Regions from separate parts of the Homo sapiens genome. Here region 1 is linked to region 2. Evidence: fine-mapped expression QTL. A gene starts in region 2. The other region holds a variant in brackets. All regions are shown on one strand. Distances are between the middles of the regions. Region 1 holds the start of LOC124904575 (a long non-coding RNA gene). Region 2 holds the start of NLRP3 (NLR family pyrin domain containing 3).

Region 1 (11,706 bases), 34 kb after region 2:
CCCAAAGTGCTGGGATTACAGGCATAAGCCACTGCACCTGGCCTTATTTATTTATTTATTTAGGCAGGGTCTCACTCTGTCACCCAGGCTAGAGTGTGGCAGCGCAATCATGGCTCACTGCAGCCTCGACTTCCTGGACTCAAGCGATCCTCCCACCTCTCCAACGTGGTTGAGGGCTGCAGCGAGAAAGATGTGAAAGGGGCATTTGGGGGCGCAGGAAGGCGGGAGGTGGCAATTGCTAAGGGCCCCGCCGTGTTCCTGTCACAGCCCTAGCTACAGCTTAGAAGGTCACAATGGACGTTCACCTGTTGTCTTTGATGTTTAAATCAGCACCGACTTCCCATGAGGAGGATTTTTTTTTCCTGTCTCTCTTAAAAAAAAAAAAAAAGGCCCCTGCAGTGTGGGTGTCTGCAGTGTTACGGGGATTATTAGTTGAGGATAACCACTGGGATGTGTTTCTGGAAGAAGTGGTGCTGAGGAGCACTCCTGGCCGGAGGAAAGCTGTGTGAGGAGGAGGAGGAGTATGGGGTAACTGGCTCAGTTTGCCTTGGCTCTTTCTGTCGGACTCATACAGCAAAGCATCTGCTGAGACATCATTTGTGTCTCCTGTGACAGCCAGAGACAGCAGGTCTTGCTCTCCCCAGATCATATCTGAGATGCTGGCTCCTGCTCTCTGAGCTGAAGGCTGCAGCTGCTGAGAGAGGACGAGGCACTGAGTCAAAGCAGCTGCACAATGTTGGGGAACAGCTGGGTACTGAGGACTCTTCTCCCTGTCCTTCTACAGGTTGGTGAATTCTGGCCTTACGTCAGTCTGTTGTTCAGCTTTGTCCTCGGTACTCAGCACTAATCAGAATCTCACGCACCTTTACCTGCGAGGCAACACTCTCGGAGACAAGGGGATCAAACTACTCTGTGAGGGACTCTTGCACCCCGACTGCAAGCTTCAGGTGTTGGAGTAAGTCCTTTGGTTTATTACAGCAATGAGAACACATGGTGGCCAAGGGTGGAGGGACGTTTAGGCAGAGTGGCCACAAGATAATCTGTATCTTAGAAGTGAGGTGTCTTCTTAGTGTTTGCCTTGTTACAGGATCATGGGACTGGGAGGAGTCCTTCCAGATGATATAGATGTAGGAACTTGAGTCCTTACCATCACAGTTTTCTGTACCACAAAACAAGGAGGGCAGTATGACACTTACATTTTATGGAAATGTAGGGAAAGGCACAGAATTTGGTAAATCAATGAACAAACCACTGTTACTAATTTGATCTGTGCAATGCAGTGGATTTGAAAAAGAGAGAGAAGAATAATTACCAGCATACAAGGCTGCTTGAAGCTAGTTAGTCCTGTGCTCCTGTGCTTTTTTTTTTTCCACCTGAAACAAGACAGGCTAAGATGCTAAAATCTTGGGGAGCTAGGGGGATGGTTAAGGGGACATTTTCTTTAAATCACCCCCTTTTTGCAGATTAGACAACTGCAACCTCACGTCACACTGCTGCTGGGATCTTTCCACACTTCTGACCTCCAGCCAGAGCCTGCGAAAGCTGAGCCTGGGCAACAATGACCTGGGCGACCTGGGGGTCATGATGTTCTGTGAAGTGCTGAAACAGCAGAGCTGCCTCCTGCAGAACCTGGGGTGAGTGTGCTCTGCAGAGATGCCCGTGGTGGGACTCTGAGTTCTCAGGAAACGTTGACTGTTATCAAAATCCAGGATGGCTCTCGCTTCATTTGCAGCCACTCAAGATTAGGTTGGGCCTGGGTCAGTTGTGGTGGATATTTTAAAATAGAGAATATGGGGTTAAACTACACATTCCACTTCACTGAGATGGTTAGAATCACCAAGGCTAAGCTGGATTTCACCCACATTCCCCAAAGAAACACAAGCCCTCATGCGATCATGGCCAAGGAGGATTCTGTTCTACACAAGGAACCGAACTTCGTAGAACTCGTCTATGGGTCATCCAAATTGGAAGGGTCTTTACATAGTGGGGATCTTGTTGTTTTGTTTCTGAGGATTTATTTTTTTTTTCCTTGAGACAGAGTCTTGCTCTGTCGCCCAGGCTGGAGTGCAGTGGCATGATCTCGGCTCACTGCAAGCTCCGCCTCCCGGGTTCACGCCATTCTCCTGCCTCGGCCTCCCAAGTAGCTGGGACCACAGGCGCCTGCCACCACACCCGGCTAATTTTTTGTATTTTTAGTAGAGTTGGGGTTTCACTGTGTTAGCCAGGATGGTCTCCATCTCCTGACCTCGTGATCTGCCTGCCTCGGCCTCCCCAAGTGCTGGGATTACAGGTGTGAGCCTCCGTGCCTGGCGGTTTCTGAGGATTTCTAAATGGGAAAAGAGTGCTCCAGGAATAGCAAGATGGGAAATTACACGAAATTCGACAGTGTGTCAGGATATTGCCAGCCCACCTCTGTGATACTACTGAGGTAGTCGTCTCCTCTCTAGCAAGAGCTTCCTGGCGAGTCCCACGGTTCTGTCAGCCGTGATGATTGCACTTTTCCCTGAAGACGTTTTCACTGCTTGGCTTTAAGGCCAACATGCTCTCCTGGGTTTTCTCCTATTTCATCAGATCCTTCTACTCAGTCTCCTTTCTGGCCTCTTCTTCATCATCCTGACCCTTATGTGTTGAATCCTCAGAGCTTAGTCGCTGGGCTAATTTTTCTTCCCTACACTTTCTCCCTCATTTAAATTATCTGGTCTTCTGGCTTCATGATATGTGTGCTGTGGCCTCCAGATTATATGTCCATAAATTCTGTGTCTCCGTGCTTGGCTGATCTTTCTTCTTGAAGGTTTAATAAACCTCTCAAACGTCACATCTAGATCCACACCCTTGCTACTCTCTTCTACCCGAAACCTGATTCTTCCCCATTTCAGTCGATGGTCACTTCCTCCAAGTTGCTCGGGCCAAAACATTTCTGGTTCTGTCGTCACTGTCTCTTTTTCCTTATAATCATGTCCAATGTGTCAGCACATCCTGTGAGCTCTGCCTTCCCAGCTTGGCCACTCCCTGACCACTTCAGGCCAGCTTCACGGCTTCTTCCTTGGCTCAAGCCACCATCACCTGGTGTCTGGATTGTCATGGTGGCATTCTGACAGGTCACCCTGCATCTGTTATTCTGATTTTAGCAGACAAGGGATTCAGCTAAAACGTAACTCGCATCATATCACTCTTGTCAACATCGTCTTCTTATCACTTTCATAATCAGAGCAACAAACTCATGGTGGCTTCCATGCCCCACATAATCCAGCCTCTCCTGCTTCCGAAGATTCCGCTTCTCCCAACCCTTGCTTATTCTGCCCCAGTACAGTGATCTCCTTGCTGTTTTGCAAGAACACTGTCATCTCTGGATTTTTGCACTTGCTTTTCTTCTGGCCTAGAACTCTCTCCCCTTCAGTATCCACCTGCATTATTCCCTGTACCTTCCTAAATTCTCTGCTTAAAGGTCTTCTCTGCGAGGCTGTCTTTGACTATTCTACTGAAAATAGAAGCACTTTTTCTTCTCTTCTCATTCTCCTCTGCAGTGTAGCACATCTTATGTGCTATGTCATTTTCTTGTTTATTTATTATCTATCTCTGCTCCCAAAATATAAATTCCATTAGTCCAGGGACTTCTGTCCATATTAATGATCTCAAGGCTGAGAACTTGTTGGAATGCAGGTTTGAATAAATACAAGTTTGAATCAGCCTTGCATCCTTGTGCCAACATAATGGAGCACATTTGCTGCAGGACAAGCCAATATTCCCAGAGCTAAGAGAGATGGGGGAACAAACAAAGGATTGGTCAGGTCAAAGCTGGGGACACTGCTACATGTAGCATCACTGACCTAGCCCTGAGGGACATTCTGGACCCAGGCTGAGGGACAGGCTCAAAATAGATTGAAGAATCCATGAATGCAATCAACCCGTTTTCTCAGGCTGCGATAACAAGCTGCTTTAGACTGTGTGACTCAAACACAGATTTATTATCTCACAATACTGGAGGCTAGAAAGTCCAAAATCAAGTCTCTGATGAATTTGGTTGCTGGCGAGAGTCCTCTTCCTGATTTGCAGATGGCTACCTTCTTGTTATGTGATTGCATGGAGGGAGGGGAGGCAAGGGAGAGAAGACAGGGGAGAAAGAACAAACTCTCTGATATCTCTCCTGTAAGGGCACTCACCCCATACTGAGGGCCCCACCCTCACAACTTCATCTAACTCTAACTACTTCCCAAGGGCCTCACCTTTAAGTACCGTACATTAGGGGTTCGGGCTTCATCATGGGAATTGTTAAGGAAGACAAACATTCAGTATATAACACCACCAAATTGAGATGGTTATAAATGGTGCAGGACAAATGGGTGGATTTATTAGTTAAGTTGCAAGGGAAACTTTATTAAAGAGGAGGAAGAACTTACATCGAAGATGTGAGAGGCATCCTGGGCAAATGCAATGTGTAGAATTGATCAGGTTAGTGACTAAATGAACATAAGGTAAAAAAATTTACAAGACAGTTGAGGAAGCGTAAATGCTGACTGGACATACAGTGATACTAAGAAATTATTGTTAAACGATTTTGGTGTGATAGTGACATTGTAATTATATTTTAGTGTCACAAAGTGAATTATTGATAGATGCATTAAATGCAGTATTTAAAATAATCCATGGGTGGGAGGAGTGGGTGGGCAATAGAAGAAACAAGTTGACATGACCTGTTTAATTGTCGAACTTGGGTAATGGACACAGGGGGTTCATTATACTATTTTCTATACTTTTATGTATGCTTAACATTTTCCCAACTAGATAGTTAAAAATATAACAGGAACCACATTGGGCACTTAGAGCTTTTTTTTTTTTTTCCCCACATTTTTATTGGGAGCCGTGGGAGGGGCCTCCTCTGTCATTGGAGGTGCTCACAGTTTCTTCAGCCACTCCAGGCTGGGGTCCTGGGGGTCTGAGGCTCCCAGTGACGAAGGACACGACGAGCACCGGCTCCTTGGCCCAGGCATTCTTGAAGAAGGTGCGGAGTCTCGCGGCCATCTTGGTCTCGGCGGCGGCGACGGCGGCGAGGACGCGGAGCACTCTGGGAGTTGTGGTCCCTCTTTTTTTTTTTTTTTTTTTTTTACATTTTAGAAGTGTGTGGAGTTTAGGGAAATGAAGAGATGAGACTTTTAAGGTTAACGACTCTGACAGAGTTATCTGAAGAGTGCAACCCAGGCTTTCTATTTGCTTTTACAGGTTGTCTGAAATGTATTTCAATTATGAGACAAAAAGTGCGTTAGAAACACTTCAAGAAGAAAAGCCTGAGCTGACCGTCGTCTTTGAGCCTTCTTGGTAGGAGTGGAAACGGGGCTGCCAGACGCCAGTGTTCTCCGGTCCCTCCAGCTGGGGGCCCTCAGGTGGAGAGAGCTGCGATCCATCCAGGCCAAGACCACAGCTCTGTGATCCTTCCGGTGGAGTGTCGGAGAAGAGAGCTTGCCGACGATGCCTTCCTGTGCAGAGCTTGGGCATCTCCTTTACGCCAGGGTGAGGAAGACACCAGGACAATGACAGCATCGGGTGTTGTT[G/C]TCATCACAGCGCCTCAGTTAGAGGATGTTCCTCTTGGTGACCTCATGTAATTAGCTCATTCAATAAAGCACTTTCTTTATTTTTCTCTTCTCTGTCTAACTTTCTTTTTCCTATCTTTTTTCTTCTTTGTTCTGTTTACTTTTGCTCATATCATCATTCCCGCTATCTTTCTATTAACTGACCATAACACAGAACTAGTTGACTATATATTATGTTGAAATTTTATGGCAGCTATTTATTTATTTAAATTTTTTGTAACAGTTTTGTTTTCTAATAAGAAAAATCCATGCTTTTTGTAGCTGGTTGAAAATTCAGGAATATGTAAAACTTTTTGGTATTTAATTAAATTGATTCCTTTTCTTAATTTTAAAAAAGAGTACCTAGAAATTTTTCAAATTATTTCTCTAAACCACTAAAGATAAATTAAATTGTTTGGTGCATTTTAAAAGTCACTTTGGCAAATGATTCCATTGTAGATAATTTTTAAAACGTTACCTCACTCTAACTGTAATGAGTGGAATTTCATCTTTGATAGGATAGGAGATTGAAAATCGTGGAGGGAAAGGTTTGAGAGTATCAGAGCCTGCGCTCCTAACTAGAAGTATTATGTAGAAGATGCATCTTGCTTTCAGTTGATAACAGCTTATTTTGGATTTATCCCATCCGAGGAACAGTTCATCTATTATACTTCACAGAGCATTAAGTTATAAGGAAATATTTACTAATTGCTTCTCTACACATGGACAACTCTTAAACCGCATGGAATTGCTCAGGATGGAAATACTATTTCCTCTGTACAATTAGCCATCAAAGTAGCCACACTTTGCTACTCAAAGTGTAGTCTATGAACTGTCGATATAAGGAGCTTGTATAAGAATGTAAAACAATCACATTATTAAACATACCTTTTAGATGAGCTGACATTTAAAAAAAACCCTGAAGACTATTTTTATAAGGGAAACAGTATGAGATTTACATTCTGTTGCAAACTCTGTCTTGTTAGCACTTCTGAGCAGCACCAACTGGAGACTGGGTTTCTGCATCTTGGTGAACTATTACCGACTGCCTTCCTGCTACAAACACTTTGATAACCTATATAAATAATGTAATCAGAAACACATAGCTGAGCTTGAAAGAGAGAAAGAGAACCTTTGGGCATTAGGACATTAAAACTGGCCAGGTTGCTGAGAATGCCATTATTTCATTCCTTTTTATGGCTGAATAGTATTTTTCCATGGTATATATCTCACATTTTCTTTTTCTTTTTTTTTTGAGATGGAGTCTTGCTCTGTCGCCCAGTCTGGAGTGCAGAGGCGCGATCTCGGCTCACTGCAACCTCCGCCTCCCGGGTTCAAGCAATTCTCTGCCTCAGCCTCCTGAGTAGCTGGGATTACAGGCGTGTGCCACCATGCCCAGCTAATTTTTGTATTTTTAGTAGAGATGGGGTTTCACCATCTTGGCCAGGCTGGTCTTGAACTCCTGACCTTGTGATTCACCCGCCTCGGCCTCCCAAAGTGCTGGGATTACAGGCATGAGCCACTGCGCCCAGATGGTTCCATATTTTTCCAATTGCAAATTGTGCTGCTATAAACACGCATGAGCAAGTATCTTTTTCGTATAATGACTTATTTTCCTCTGGGTAGATGCCCCGTAGTGGGATTGCTGGATCAAATGGTAGATCTACTTTTTGTTCTTTAAGGATCCACAATGTTTTCCATCGTGGTTGTACTAGTGTTTGTACTAGTTTACATTTCATGGAAAAACTTTCTATAGAAGAAAATGTGAACTACAGAGAAAAAAAAATCAAAATCACAGGAAGAAGATAGCAATCTACTTCATTCCTGGAATTGTCTGAAAAAGTCGTGTAAAATTTGTGGAGATTTAAGTATATGGAGAAAAACACTTATTCATTGTAAGTAAAATAAGATTGTATTTCAGCTTCATCTTGTGTATACTTAGGAGTAATAGAAAAGAGACAAATGGGGAGAGAATAAAAGAAATATAGGAAGAGGAAAAGAGAAAAGAATCAGGAAATTGGAAGTGAAATAATTCCACACATACTTATTGAAGTCTATTTAAACAATGCTTAAAAATATATGGCCTCTTAGAATTATACGTTTAAAATGAACTTTGTCGCTATGGGATTTGGGGCATTATAACAGGAAGTGAGATGTTTGAAGACAGGGTTTTTGAGCTCTCTGGGTATTAACTCCTTAAGTGAAAGATGCTCTGAGTGCACAATAGACTTGTGCTGTGTTCTTTAATTGATGGAGATGCTACATCTCATGTCCTCATCATCCACAGAGCCTCCAGATCCTGGCCAGAAGTCTCCTCAGAGCCCCCTTCATATCTTTATTTCTCAGGGTGTAGGTGAAGGGATTGAGAGTGGGGGTGATTATGGAATAGAAGAGAGAAATAAATTTGCCCTGCTCTTGGGAGTAGCTGGAAGGGGGCTGCAGATACATGTAAATCGCAGGTAGGTAGAAGAGGGAGACGATCATCAGGTGGGAGGAACACGTCCCAAAGGCCTTGTGTCGTCCCTTGGAGGACTGGATCCTGAGCACTGCCCGGGCAATAAAGCCATAGGAGAGAAGGATGAGAGCCAGGGGCACCAACACGAAGAAGGCCACCAGCACAGCCAGTATGGTGTCATTCACAGCGGTGTCAGCACACGACAGCTTGATCACGGCCGGCACCTCACAGAAAAAGTTGTTCAGCACCTGCCGCCCGCAGAATGGCAATTGCACCGTCAGGACCACCTGCACGAAGGAGTTGCCGAAGCCACTGAGCCAGGCCAGAGCCACGAGCTGCTGACAGAGAGCACGGTGCATGAGAACGGCATAGTGCAGGGGCTTGCAGATGGCCACGTAGCGGTCCAGGGCCATGGCGGCCAGGACGATGCACTCCGTGCATCCCAGCCAGTGGAAGACTGCATATTGCACAGTGCAGCCTCCATAGCTGATGGTCTTCTGGGAACTGCCCATGTTGACCAGCATCTGAGGGACTGTCGTGGTGGTGTAGCAGAGGTCCAGGAAGGACAGGTGACTGAGGAAGATGTACATGGGGCTGTGGAGTTGAGGATCCACCCGGGATGCCAGGATGATGGCGACGTTCCCCAACATGGCCAGCACATAGGACAGCAGGAGGACCACAAAGAGAGGGAGTTCCAGCCACGGCCTGTCAGACACACCCAGAAGGATGAAGGCTTTAGGGGAGTCCCCTAAGAAGCTATGGTTGTCACTTTTCATGTTGCGGCATTTTCTGGCACTTGTGGCAAATTGAGAAAATTGGAATGAATAATACCTGAGAAGAGGAATTGATCACTTTCCTCCCTCTTGCATCCACTCTTCCTTTCCCAGGTGATAGCCTGTTTGATTCTCCTTACCTCTGTGGAGACGCTGGGATGCGGAAGGGTCAGAACCAGGAGCCCCAGTAGCAGCCTCTGTGTCTTTGCTCTCCTTCCTACTCAGTGGCCGCAACTAAACCATTTAATATTCCTGAACTTCTGCATCTGTAAAATGGGGAGAAATACCTCCTTCAATTGCCAAGACTTGGGGACGATAGAGACATTAAGTATGTGAGAAGAATACCTCACGAATGACAATTATGTTCCAGGTAGAGCGAAGCGTGCTGCAGCTCCCATCACCGTCAGAGTGTTTGATTTCTCTCTACATCCACATCGACAAGGAATTGTCCACCTTCTTAGGCTTTCCCATTTTGGGAGGTAGTGGTAGGAGGGAGGCAGGCGGTGACATAAAGCAAGCAGAAGGGCTTTGTGAGCAGCTGGGGGCTGTATTGATAGGACCACCCCCCGTCACTGGCTCACGCTTGCATCCAGCTCCCGGATTCATGCTGATCTCCGCTGTCATGACCACACACGCACAGGCAGCCCTGTCACTCACACTGGCAGTAAAAGCAGCACAATTCTAGGTCCTGTGAGTCTCTGGAGTGGAAGAGCCAAGGTATACGTTACTTCAGCCCCTGAATAGGTCATGGTAGTTAATGAGACCCCAGACCATGGAATTTTGAGCACAGGGAGAAAGCTCTTGATTGGCGTGAGAAAGGTAGCCCCTGGAATTGTCTACGGAAAGATCAGACTGCCCTCTAGGGCTAGGTTTTATCTGATGGCTTGAGTGACATTCCAATTTCCTGCACAATTTCTTTGCCGAGCAGCTGTCACCTCTCAGTGATAGAAAACAGCCAATTTGATTTCTGAAACCATTGCTGTTAGGAAGCAACTGGGTTGCCACCTGCTGATTCGTGGGTCCTTTCGACTGCACCATTGGCTTCTCACCTCCTACAATCGCTCAAGCATTGCACACCTTCCAGTTCCTGATGGGGATGTTATGCTCCATGATAGGATTGAAAAATATTATTAATAAACAATAATTAATTAATCATTATTCATAATAAATCCTGTAAGCAGATAATTTATGAAGGATTTTTATTCTTGATTTGGTACCTTATGCATAGACTGTAAAACTAACGGAGATCTGCTCAGCTTACATGTTGCAACAGGTGTTCCCTGCTGCCCCAGTTGATGTTCTGAAGAACTCTACTGTTACTGGAAAACAACTCAAACTCCAGGGTTTCAATGGAGGAATAAGTTCAGTTTTTCCCTCCTGCTTCTCTAGTTTCAAAACCACACACGTTTTGTCAGAAAGTTGCCAATATTCTTGTGAAACATTCAATTATCGTATCTCCTCCCAGATTCTATCAACAATACTTATGAAATAAACTTCACAGAATGTGATCTTATCTCTAACGAGCTCAAGATGCCTGTCAAAACAGTGAGCTGTGGCCGAGCAAAGTCAAGCTAGCACATTTTTAAGTCTAATTATTAAGAAGTAAAGGAATTATGACATTTCTCTTTCTGAGATTTCTGATTCCAGAGTTTCTTTTCAGAGCCTAAACTGGGAGAAAAGGGAGAAGTTGTAGGGATAGTGAAGAAAGAAATGAGAGAATGAAGGAAGCAAGAAAGATAGAGGGGTAAATGTATGCGGCAATTTATAATAAAGACAAGTTATTTACCACTCACTGTGAGCCAGGTACTGTAATAATAACTTGATGTTGCCTTAATATCTCAGCAAGGTCCATGTTTTCACCCCTAATTGACTGAGCGACTCGGGAGGACAGCTGGTCTACCTTAGTTACACGGCAGCAAATGGTAAAGCCAGGACTGAAAGCCAAACTCCTGCTCTTCACTACTATTCTCTCCAGAACTTTGCTTTAAAAAAAGAGCAGCTGGTGACATGGGGAGCAGCAAGGGCAGTCGCGTAAACGACTGAGACAAAAGAAGTTCCTGGGAAGGGGAGATGAGGGAGAGGAAGGTCACAGGATAGAAAGGGGCAGGGATTAGAGAGGAGTGGTTTTCTTGTAATTATAGTCCACTGTACATGTGCACACTTACGTACACACGTGCACACACATGCATGCACGTGCACACGCACACACACACACACACACACACACGCACACACACACGGTTTCTCAATGGCAAAGCTGGACACTGCCCAGCCCTGCCCCTCATGCCCTGGATCTGATGCCCTTCTGTTCAGGTGTTTCCACACGGAGCTTTCGTAGGTGTCTAGCCTCTGCACTCCTTGACCTTCTTTCATCTTCCCACTACCCAAGTACAGGTGCCCCCTCAAGGCACAGCCTTGCTTCCCTGGATGGACACAGTAGTTCCCACAAACATCGCCATCGCATTCAGACGGAATCCCTCAGGCTGTATCTACAGTTGTCAGTTCCTCACTGACCTCTAACCCCCTTTTTGACATTGTGAACTGAGGCATCCCAAATTTCACCTGGCAGCCATCCCCCCAGACTCAAACCATCTCCTTCATCTTAATTCTGGCTGAGTTCCCTTCAGTCACCGTGATGCCAAGTACTGAGGTTCTTTCTATTCATGTTCTACTCCTCATTCACTCTAGTTCAGCACCGAAGTTAAAGAATTCAACACCCACACAATGCTGTGATCCCACCACAATGTTGCATCGTTGCAGGCACGCACTGTCTGTATCCTCACCACTGCCGTCCTGGGCAGAAACGCCCACCAGGACCCCTCTTGGAACTTGCTACCTGCCTCTCTGCAGGCAGTTTCAACCCCTCACTCACCCTCACACGAAGTCATCTTTCTGAGACTCAGGCCTTAAGGCA
Region 2 (11,706 bases):
AACAAACAAACAAATGAACAAAAAACAAAATCATACTATCTATTACTTTTGTAATGAAGAATACTTACCTGTTTTCCTTCTCTTTGTGAGTTTGCAATAAAGTCCTCTCGATTTGCTTTAACTTGGCATGTGTCTTTCAGAGATATTGGAGAGCACTGGGAGGCATTCCTTAAAGGTAGATGAGGCAAAGAACCAAGACAAGGGGCTCTGGCTCTAACACTCTTGGTGGGTTCTAGAGATCAGATTATGAACACAGGAAAAGGAGAAGATAAATGGGATGAAGAAGCCAATTCCAACATATTACATAGCATGCTTATATGAAGGACTTGGCTTTCGTAAAGTAAGAACTGACAGCTTTTTTCTTGATGGCCATCCACTTTTTAGTCTGTGTCTCAGAAAGTGTAGAGGTCGAGGAATCGGGGGCCCCTGGGACTCTTGGGTCATAGACACATTAGGAAAACCCACCTCAGCTGGGGAAGCTGACTCAGCGCCAGCACTCCAGGCCCCAGAGGAGCAGTCACCCCTGGAAAGAGGGAAGAGCAGCAGCAGCAACGGAAGGTCACGTCTCCTCACAAGAACTCACAAAGTCTCGCTAATGTTATGACTGTACTTTCTGAAACCCAATTTGTCTTTGTTCATACCTTTTCCCTTCCTGCTAGTCACATTTTTTCTGGTGAGAGAAAGTGAAATTGCCATTTTTAATATCAGCCAGTCACTTTCAGTTTGAAATGCAGTCTGTTTCTTGGTAACCTCAGATACTTTGGCACTCCCCACCTCCGATCTCTTCTGTTCTCTCTAGTAGGGGAGGATGTCTGGCTTCTGGGCTGATCTCTGCCTTTGCTGAGCACCCCTGAGATCATCCCACTTGGGCTTGTGTCTTAGTCCGTTTGTACTAACAAAACACCTGAGACTGGGTAATTTCTAAGGAGCAGAAATTTATTTCTTAGAGCTCTGGAGGCCGTGAGGTCCAGGATCAAGGCGCTGGCCTTGGTGCCCGGTGAGAAGTGCTCTCTGCTTCCAAGATGGTGCCTTGTTGCCATGTCCTCACATGGCCCATGGCAGATAGGCAAGAGAGAGCACCCCCTTGAACCCGGAGCCCTTTTACAAGTGTGTGAATCCCATTCATCACCCCACAAACTCAATCACCCCACAAACACCACACCCCTGAATACTATTGTATTGGGGGATTAAGTTCTTTTTAAATTTTTATTTATTTGCGTATTTTTATTTATTTATTTATTTGGAGACAGGATTTGGCTCTGTCACCCAGGCTGAAGTGCAGTGACACAATCTCAGTTCACTGCAAGCCTTGACTTCCTGGGTTCAGAAGATCCTCCCACCTCAGCCTCCCCAGTAGCTGGGGACCACAGGTGATTTCAACTTGAAATCATTCATGCAATTTTAGTTTGGAATTCAGTGCTGTGAGTTCCAGTCCACTTAAGTGAGCTTTGGGTATTTAATGGAAGCAATTATTTTTCTTAAATGTACAAGAGTAAATTATTATTATTTTTTTTTGCATGAATGATGTATGGAAAATCACCGCGTTTTACTTTTGTGAGTTGACTTATTTATTTGTGTTGATTTTGATATTCCCAAATCTGAAACAAAATTTTTTCAGAATGCATAATAACACACAGAGTATGGTGGTCTTTCATTGACAAGTTTTTATGTATGATTAGAGTATCTTTTCAAGATTCATAATCTGCATTTTTTTAATATAGGGTCTCACTCTGTCACCCAGGCTGGAGTGCAGTGGCACAGTCCTAGCTCACTGCAGCCTCAATTTCCTGGGCTCAAGCGATCCTCCCACCTCAGCGTCCTGAGTAGCTGGTACTACAGGCATGCACCACCACATCCGTCTATTTTTTAATTTTTTGTGGAGATGGGGTCTCACTATGTTGCCCAGGCTGCTCTTGGCCTCCTGGCTTCAAGTGATCCTCCTGCCTCAAACCTCCCAAAGCGTTGGGATTACAGGTGTGAGCCACTGAAACTGGCCTGACCTACAATTTGAATACTACTGTACAGTTTACATTTTGCTGTCAGGTATTATTTTATTTATTTTTTCCTCTCTACAATAATGTATTATAGATCAGGTCTTGTTTTATTTGAGCCTCACAGGAAAGCTGAGGTGAGGGTCGCAGGCAAGGAGTCGGACCACAGGAGTGGTCGCAGCATTCAGCGGAGAGTGAAGCAGCGAAGGCTGGAAACCTCATCTGCTTCTCGTGAACTTCCCACTGCCCCAAGTGACTGATGTCCTTACACAATTGCAGCCAGTTCGCCAGCTGCATGAGTGACAGTGGCATAATTGACGATTGCCAAAAACGGAAACAGCCCAACTGTCCTTTGCCTAGGGAATAGAAAACCAAATTGTGGCCTATCCAACCCATGAAATACTTAACTGCAGTAAAAAGGAATAAGCTACTGATCTGAATCTCACAGGCATCATATGAAGTGAGCGGACTCGCTCACCAAAGGCTGCACACTGTTTATGTGATGCTCTGGAAAAGGTAATGCTTTAGCAGGTGGAAGAAGTGGGGCTGCGGGTGGGGACAGAGGCTGACTATGTGGCAGCACAGTGGGTGGGGACAGAGGCTGCACAGGGAGCATGTGCAGCTGATGCAGGTGCTCTGTGTGGGCTGTGGTGGTGGGTAGCTATATGCTTGTGAGCACTCACAGGCCTGTGCATGAAAAAGGTGCGAATATTTATTTTATTGTACATATTTCAGGTGTATAACATGGCAGTTTGATATACATAGTGAAATGATTGCTGCAGTCAAGCAAATTAACATGAGTTAACATAGCCACCATCTCACATAATAATCTTTCTTGTGGGTGGTAAAAACATCTAAAATCTCTCTTAGCAAATTTCAGGTTTATAATATTTTTAACTATCGTTCCCACACTGTTTGTTAGATCTCTCGGCTTATTTATCCTACATAACCGAAATTTCGTACCCTTTGACCGTCATTTTATTTCCTCTACCCCGGTAACTCTCTGTTTCTATATATTCAACTATTTTTTTTTGAGACAGGATCTCGGTCTGTCACTCAGGCTGGAGTGCAGTGGTGTGATCTCGGCTCACTGCAGCCTCGACCTCCCAGACTCAAGCAATCCTCCCACCTCAGCCTCCCAGCCTCTCAAGTAGCTGGGGTGACATGTGCACACCACTGCACCTGGCTTCCTTCCCTCCCTCCCTCCTTTCTTTTCTTTTTTTCATTTTTTTGGTAGAGGTGAAGCCTCACTATCTTGCCCAGGCTGGTCTCAAGCTCTTGGGCTCAAGTGATCCACTCACCTCAGCCTCCCAAAGTGCTGGGATTACAGGTGTGAGGCACCACTCCTGGCCTAACTTTTTTTTTTTTTTTTTTTAAGGTTCCACATATGAGTGAGATCATGTAGTGTTTGTCTTTCTGTGCCTGGCTTATTATGCTTTGTGTAAAGTCCACCGGGTTCATCTATGTTGTGGCAAATAGCAGAGTCTCAATTTTTAATACTAACTAAGATTGTATTGTGTATATATGCCCCAAACTCTTTATTTATTCATCTGTCAATAGACACTTGGGTTGTTTGCCTATCTGGACCATGGTGAATAATGCTGCTATGAACATGAGTGCACAGATGTCTTTGTGAGGTGGTGATTTTATTTCCTTTGGATACACACTCAGAAGAAGGATTGCTGGGTCATACGGTAGTTCTATTTTTAATTTCTTTAGGAACCTCCATATTGTTTTCTGCAATGGCTGCACCAATCTGCATTCCCAGCAGCAATGTGCAAGGGTTCCCTGTTCTTCACGCCCTAGCCAATGTTTGTCTCTTGTCATTTTGCTAATAGCCATCCTAACAGGTTTGAGGTGGTACCTCATTGTGGGTTTGGTTTGCATTTCCCTGATGATTAGTGATGTTGAGCACTTTTTTGTATACATGTTGACCATTTTTGTTTCTTTTTTAGAGAAATGTCTATTCAGTTCCTTTCTTCATTTTAAAAATCAGATTATTTGTTTTATGCTTTGAGTTGTGTGAATTCCTTACATATTTTGCATATTAACTACTTATCTGATATATGGCTTAAAACTATTTTCTTCCAATTTGTTGGCTACCTTTTCACTCTGTTGATTGTTTCTTTTGCTATACAGGAGCTTTTTACTTTGATGTATTCCCACTTATTTATCTTTACTTTTGTTCCTTTGCTTTTGTTGAGACATTAAAAATATCCATGCCAAGGCTAATATCAAGAAGTTTTCTCCTCTGTTTTCTATTTTTTATATTTAGTTTTTTATCTGTTTAGAGATTGGGTCTCATTCTGTTACCCAGGCTGGAATGCAGTAGTGTCATTATAGCTCACTGTAACCTCAAATTCCTGGGCTCAAGTGATCTTCTTGCCTCGGCCTCCTGAGTAGCTGGGCTACAGGTGCACAGCACCATGCCTGGCTAATTTTTTTTTTTTTAATTTTGTAGACACAAAGTCTCACTATGTTGCCCAGGCTGACTGTGAACTTCTGGCCTCAGGTGATCCTCCTGCCTCAGCCTCCCAGAGTGCTGGGATTACAGGCATGAGCCACCATGCCTGGCTTCTTCTCTATTTTCTTCTAGGAGTTTTACAGTTTTAGATCTTATGTTTAGATCTTTAATCCATTTTGAGTTGGTTTTTGTGTGTGCCAAGTTTTATTCTTTTGCGTGTGGAAATCCAGTTTCACCAAAAGCTTAATTTTTCAAAATCTTATATTTTTCTTGATTTTTTTTTCACACTTCTATAGCCAACATCTTTATTGAAGAGATTGTCCTTTCTCCATTGTGTCTTCTTGGTGACCTTGTCAAAGAATTAGTTGACTGCATATACTTGAGTTTATTTCTGTTCCACTGGTCTATGGGTCTGTTTTTATAAAGGCATGGATTTTTACTGCATATGAATTATACCTAAATTTGTCTTTTTTTTTTCCTTTTTCTGGAGAATGGGGTCTCACTATATTGCCCAGGCAGGTCTCGAACTCCTGGGCTCAAGCTATCCTCCCGCCTCTTGCCTCCCTGAGAGCTGGGATTACAGGCGTGAGCCACTGCGCCCGGCTGAATTATACCTAAATTAACTTGACTAAACAAACAAAAACAAAAAGATCCCAGGTTCAGCCAATGAGCTCCTTTTTTTTTTTTTGAAATGGAGTCTTGCTCTTGTCACCCAGGCTGGAGTGCAGTGGCACAATCTCAGCTCACTGCAGCCTCCACCTCCCAGGTTCAAGTGATTCTCTTGCCTCAGCTTCCTGAGTAGCTGGGATTACAGGTGCCCGCCACCACACCCAGCTATTTTTTTTTATATTTTTAGTAGAGATGGGGTTTCGTCATGTTGGCCAGGCTGGTCTCAAACTCCTGACCTTGTGATCTGCCTGCCTTGGCCTCTCAAAGTGCTGGGATTACAGGCATGAGCCACTGCACCCAGGCTGAGCTCCTTTCTTTTGGAGCATATTTGGTCTGCTTTCTCTCTAGCTTCAGCACCTGAAGTTTTTGCTGCTCCTGCCTCAGCTCCAGCCCCGAATGACACCTTTCACCTGGTTCATGGAGACTCAGGTCTGCTGTCATGCCCCTAAGCAGGACTAGATGCCTCTCTCATGTTGTAGAGCATTCTCTCTGCAGTTCTGTAGAAAGGTGGTAGTCATCGGAACCAACTGCTTATTCTAGCTTCTCTGTGCCAGGCTCTGTTTTAAAGGCCTCACGTTTAGCCATTCACTCAGTGTTTTCTGACAGCCTTCTAGGATAGGTACCGTTATTTGGGTTGATGTAGTGCTTGGTCAAATGCAGTATAATGAAGGGATCAAGGAGGGGGCAATTCCAAGCAAAACCACTTGTTCATCCATCCTGAGTCTAGGAGATTTGGAAGATCTAAAGAAGTAGCAGGCAATTATTGTCACCCTTTTACAGGTATGAGGCACAGACAGACCCAGTCATTTGCTGACATCCCTCCACTGAACTGGGTGCTCGTCCTTTTCACTCACCCAGAGGCTGAGCGAGTGCCTCTCACCCACCAAGCTCTGTTGAACTTGTGCCTTTGCCGGTCTGTGGTCCTGCGGCCGTCTCATGAGCTGCAGAGTAGGTCTGTGTGTGTCTCTCCTCAAGCTACTCAAGCTGAGGCTTTGTGTGCATGCCTGCCACATACCAGCCATTCCGTGAGTGTTAGTGGAACAGGTGAGTCAATGAGTCAGGGAGTAAAATTTGTGCTTTAAAAGTAGAACATGTCGGAGAGAACCTGTACTGCCTTCCAGCCATCTTGCTGTGAGAGGACAGGGCATGGACTCTGGAGTTTGAAGGCTGGGTCAGGTCATGCTCTGGATTCTTTACTCACTCGCATGGCATGTCCTTAGTTTCACTTCCCTCACTCTCAGTGGAGCCGTTGCAGCGGGCAGTGTCAGAGGCAACATCCATTTAGCACTGCCGATTTGACCCCCAGCCCCATCTCATACTGGCCTCCCACCCTGCTTCTGTGGGGTGCCTCAGAGGAGAGCAAGGTGAACCCCAGTATGGAACCGAGACACGGTTTTGACAACACTGTTGATCCCATTTGGAAAATCCAGCTATGTGATTAACCATTAGTCTCTCTGCCTCTGCTCTGATGTAAGTGGAGACCACATCCTTCCTGCCCCTTCTGGGGCTGCGACTGCTATAAATTCATTGCATTTCCTCTCTAGCTGTTCCTGAGGCTGGCATCTGGGTAAGTCCAGCTCCGCGGGGCAGTGTGGGCGACAGGACCGGGAGAGCAGTGGGGGAGATTGTGTTCAGAGGGCAGAACTTGTCCTGGTTAATGCACTAGGAATTTCTTCTGGCGTCTCCAAGGTTGTGCTTCAACAACATTTCTGGAATGTTCTTTTATCATTATTTGGGCTCTACGTGTGCAAGTTCGTGTGTGTGTATGTGGCGGGGGGAAGCGGGGAGGACAGCGGCAGCAACCATAGTTTACACCCACGACTTCAGCAGATTTGCCCAGTATCCCTCCCAGGGGAGAAGATGGATGGGATATACAGAAGGAAACAAACCTCCTTAAAGACCAAAGGGCAGCAGATTTTTGTGCTGGTGTTAGGGTGGAAGGAGCACAGAAGAAAGGCAGAATCCTGATGCAGATGGAAGGACTGATGGGGCAGGAGCTGGGAGGGTATGCGGAGCTAATAGGGCTGTCTGGAGAGCAGTCACCTCAGGATGGGCAGGAGCTGGGAGGGTATGCGGAGCTAATAGGGCTGTCTGGAGAGCAGTCACCTCAGGATGCACAGGGCTGGGTTTGCAGGGCTCAGGAGGCGAGGAGTAGATAGGCAGGAATGGAGATGGGACGGGAGAGATGAGTGAGTCTGAGGCATCTTGACATTGAACTGCAGTCACAGAAATTCCAATTTGGAGAGCTCCACCGTTTTCCAGGCTCTCTGCCTCCCTTGAGTGTTATTTATGGCTTTAGGTTGAGGTGCTTTGCCAAATAGAGTATAATCAAGGGATCAAGGAGGGAACAATTCCAAACAAAGCCAACTTGTTCATCCATCCGGACTCTAGGAGATATGGAAGATCTAAAGATACAGCAGGTGATTGCTAGTTTTTGTGGAACTCACAGTCTAGTTGGGAAGACTATGTTGGTGAATGCTGCAGTGATACACCTGTGATAAATGCTGGGGAAGTGTGTCTTTTAGTCATCTATTTTGTTGTCTTTGTCTTTGTCTGACTGAAACAAGTGATGGAAGACATGGTCTCATATCTCTGGTCAAAATCCTGGCTCTGTTCCTTCCTGGTTCTAAACCCCTCGGCAGGCTTCCTAGTCCCCCTAAGACTCAGTTTATGCATCTATAAAATGGGGCTAGGAATAGGTGCACCTCATAGAGCTCTGTGCAGGTTAGATGGGGAAAAACATCAGTGAGTGCCTAGCCTGTGGAAAGCTCTAAATTAATGTGAATTATAATGATAACAATTGCGAATTTTGCAAGGAGACATTAAAGGATGTATGTTTTTATTTATTTTATTTTATTCTATTTTATTTTTTGAGATGGAGTTTTGCTCTTATTGCCCAGGCTGGAGTGCAGTGGTGTGATCTTGGCTCATCGCAACCTCCGCCTCCTGGGTTCAAGCGATTCTCCTGCCTCAGCCTCCCGAGTAGCTGGGATTACAGGTGCCTGGTACCATGCCCGGTTAATTTTTGTATTTTTAGTAGAGACGGGATTTCTCCCTGTTGTTTGGTGAGCCTGGTCTCCAACTCCTGACCTCAGGTGATCCGCCCACCTCGGCCTCCCAAAGTGCTGGGATTACAGGGATGTATGTTTTTATTATTCTCCATTATGCACTCCCAGCTTCATCTCACTTCAATCCACTGGTTGATAGAAGTGCAGTCAAAGACTGTCCCCTCCTCTGCAAGCTTTTATGTTCTCTCTCCTCTCTCCCTAGCCACGTCCTGTTCTGTTATCAACACACTTACTCACCTCCTGGCCTTCTCCTTCTATTGTCTCTCATCCCTCTTCCCTCACAAAAACAGAAGCAAAGAGCCAGAGCCTTCAGTTTGGAGGAACTGAAAACATTCTCTTCTGCTTTCTCATTTTGTAGATGAGGAAACTGAAGTTGAGGAATAGTGAAGAGTTTGTCCAATGTCATAGCCCCGTAATCAACGGGACAAAAATTTTCTTGCTGATGGGTCAAGATGGCATCGTGAAGTGGTTGTTCACCGTAAACTGTAATACAATCCTGTTTATGGATTTGTTTGCATATTTTTCCCTCCATAGGGAAACCTTTCTTCCATGGCTCAGGACACACTCCTGGATCGAGCCAACAGGAGAACTTTCTGGTAAGCATTTGGCTAACTTTTTTTTTTTTGAGATGGAGTCTTGCTGTGTCGCCTAGGCTGGAGTGCAGTGGCGTGATCTTGGCTCACTGCAGCCTCCACTTCCCGGGTTCAATCAATTCTCCTACCTCAACTTCCTGAGTAGCTGGGATTACAGGCGCCCGCCACCACACCCGGCTCATTTTTGTACTTTTAGTAGAGACACAGTTTTGCCATGTTGGCCAGGCTGGTCTTGAATTCCTCAGCTCAGGTGATCTGCCTGCCTTGGCCTCTCAAAGTGCTGGGATTACAGGCGTGAGCCACTGTGCCCGGCCTTGGCTAACTTTTCAAAATTAAAGATTTTGACTTGTTACAGTCATGTGACATTTTTTTCTTTCTGTTTGCTGAGTTTTTGATAATTTATATCTCTCAAAGTGGAGACTTTAAAAAAGACTCATCCGTGTGCCGTGTTCACTGCCTGGTATCTTAGTGTGGACCGAAGCCTAAGGACCCTGAAAACAGCTGCAGATGAAGATGGCAAGCACCCGCTGCAAGCTGGCCAGGTACCTGGAGGACCTGGAGGATGTGGACTTGAAGAAATTTAAGATGCACTTAGAGGACTATCCTCCCCAGAAGGGCTGCATCCCCCTCCCGAGGGGTCAGACAGAGAAGGCAGACCATGTGGATCTAGCCACGCTAATGATCGACTTCAATGGGGAGGAGAAGGCGTGGGCCATGGCCGTGTGGATCTTCGCTGCGATCAACAGGAGAGACCTTTATGAGAAAGCAAAAAGAGATGAGCCGAAGTGGGGTGAGTGGAAGGAAGACTTTTAAAAAAAATTGTGGCCAAGTGCACATAGTGTACAATTTTCCATCTTTATATATATATATATATATATTTTTTTTTGAGACGGAGTTGCTCTTGTTGCCCAGGCTGGAGTGCAATGGTGAGATCTTGGCTCACTGCAACCTCCACCTCCCGGGTTCAAGCGATTTTCCTGCCTCAGCCTCCCAAGTAGCTGGGATTACAGGCATTGCACCTCCACGCCCGGCTAATTTTGTATTTTTAGTAGAGATGGGGTTTCTCCATGTTGGTCAGGTTGGTCTCAAACTCCCGACCTCAGGTGATCCACCCGCCTCGGCCTCGCAAAGTGCTGGAATTACAGGTGTGAGCCACCGCGCCCGGCCGTAATAATTTTTAAATGTACAGTTCAGTAGTGTTAGGTACACTCACATTGTGCAACCAGTCTCCAGAACTGTTTTCATCTTGCAAAACTGAAACTCCTCACCCATTGAATGATAACTCCTCATTGCCTCATTCTCCCAGCCCTGGTAACCACCATTCTATTTGCCATCTCTGTGAATCTTACTACTCTGGGTACCTCATATAAGTGGAAACATACAGCATTTTTTCCTTTATGAGTAGTTTATTTCACTCAGCATAATGTCCTCCGGGTTCAACTATGTTGTAGCATGTGTCGGAATTCCCTTCCTTTAAAAAAGACTGTATAAATACTCCATGGTACCATATACCAAATTTTGTTTAGTTATCTGTTGATGAACACCTGGATTACTTCTACCTTTTTGTTATTGTTAATGCTGTTATGAGTGTTGGTGCACAAATATCTCTTCAAGACCCTGCTTTGAATTCTCTGGGGTATATACTCAGAAGTGAAATTTCTGAATCATACGGTAATTCTGTTAAATATTTTGAAGAACTGCTCTACTGTTTTAGATACCATCTGCACCATTTCCCACCAACAGCACACAAGGGTTCCAATTTCTCCATATCCTAAGAACACGTTATTTTTATTTATTTTTTCTTTTTTATAGTAGCCATTCTAATGAGTGTGAGGTGGTATCTCACTGTAGTTTTGATTTCCGTTTCCCTAATGATAAGTGATGCTGAGCACATTTTCACTGCTTGTTGGCCATTTATAGAGCTTCTTCAGAGAAAGTTCTGTTCAAGTTCTTTTCTCATTTTCAGACCAGGTTTGGCTTTTGTTGTTGCCTTGTAGGAGTTCTTTATGTATTCTAGATATTAACCCCATATCAGATATATGATTTACAAATATTTTCTCCTATTCTGTGGGTTGTCTTTTCATTTGGTTAACTGTGTCCTTTGATGCACAGAAGTTAGTATGATTTTTTTTTTTTTAAATCATGGCCGGGCATGGTGGCTCATGCCTGTAATTCCAGCACTTTGTGAGGCTGAGGTGGGTGGATCACCTGAGGTCAGGAGTTCAACACCAGCCTGGCCAACATGGCAAAACCCCATCTCTACTAAAAATACAAAAAAAATTAGCCGGGTGTGGTGGTGGGCACCTGTAATCCCAGCTACTCAGGAGGCTGAGGTAGGAGAATTGCTTGAACATGGGGAGTGGAGGTTGCAGTGAGCTGAGATTGCACCACGGCACTCCAGCCTGGGCTAAAGAGCAAGACCCTGTTTCAAAAAAAAATTTTTTTTTCTTGTATTGTCTTGGTTTTTTCTCTTTTCCCCTCTCACGGTAGTGCTATGAGAAGGTGGAGGCAAACTGTTTGCTTTCTCTAACTCCTTTAAAAAGCTGATGCAGACTGTACCTACCCCCTGGGCACCTGCCATGATTAGTCCCTCTTTATCTGAATCTCAGCAGTGCCTAGACCTGCCTCCAATTCTCCATCCAGCTTCTCAGACCACATGTTTTGTCCAGTATCTGCTGTGTGGTCAGCAGGCTTGGGCCTCTGCTTCCTATGGCCCAGAGGGCAGCCTCTCTCCTTGAAGAACCGTGGAGTTTGGGGCAGAAGCCTTTCCTTTCACCACCACTTTGGGAATTGGAATGTAAAAGAAATTCTCTTAATCCCCATGTACACATTGGGGATAAGGTTCTTTCTTTTGTCTTGTGTTCTAGGCAAAGGTAGGGCTCAGAGAAGGGCAGGGTATTGCAGGATGATGATGTAGAGCT

The links.
Region 1: its variant is fine-mapped to the expression of NLRP3 in whole blood (TOPMed, PIP above 0.99).

Annotation. Positions count from the first base shown.
Region 1 is chr1:247,443,188-247,454,893 of GRCh38, forward strand. NLRP3 (NLR family pyrin domain containing 3) reads left to right here. Exons shown (of 10, transcript NM_001243133.2): 8 at 785-955; 9 at 1,464-1,634; 10 at 5,218-5,630. The coding sequence ends at 5,317. OR2B11 (olfactory receptor family 2 subfamily B member 11) reads right to left here. Exons shown (of 2, transcript NM_001004492.2): 2 at 5,995-11,706. The coding sequence starts at 8,795. The coding sequence ends at 7,842. It overlaps LOC124904575 (a long non-coding RNA gene), which reads right to left and starts at 5,040. Exons shown (of 2, transcript XR_007067005.1): 1 at 4,897-5,040. The variant G/C (reference allele first, on the strand shown) is at 5,547.
Region 2 is chr1:247,409,503-247,421,208 of GRCh38, forward strand. NLRP3 (NLR family pyrin domain containing 3) reads left to right here and starts at 6,671. Exons shown (of 10, transcript NM_001243133.2): 1 at 6,671-6,691; 2 at 8,551-9,575. The coding sequence starts at 9,299. RefSeq lists enhancers at 855-904, 1,015-1,074.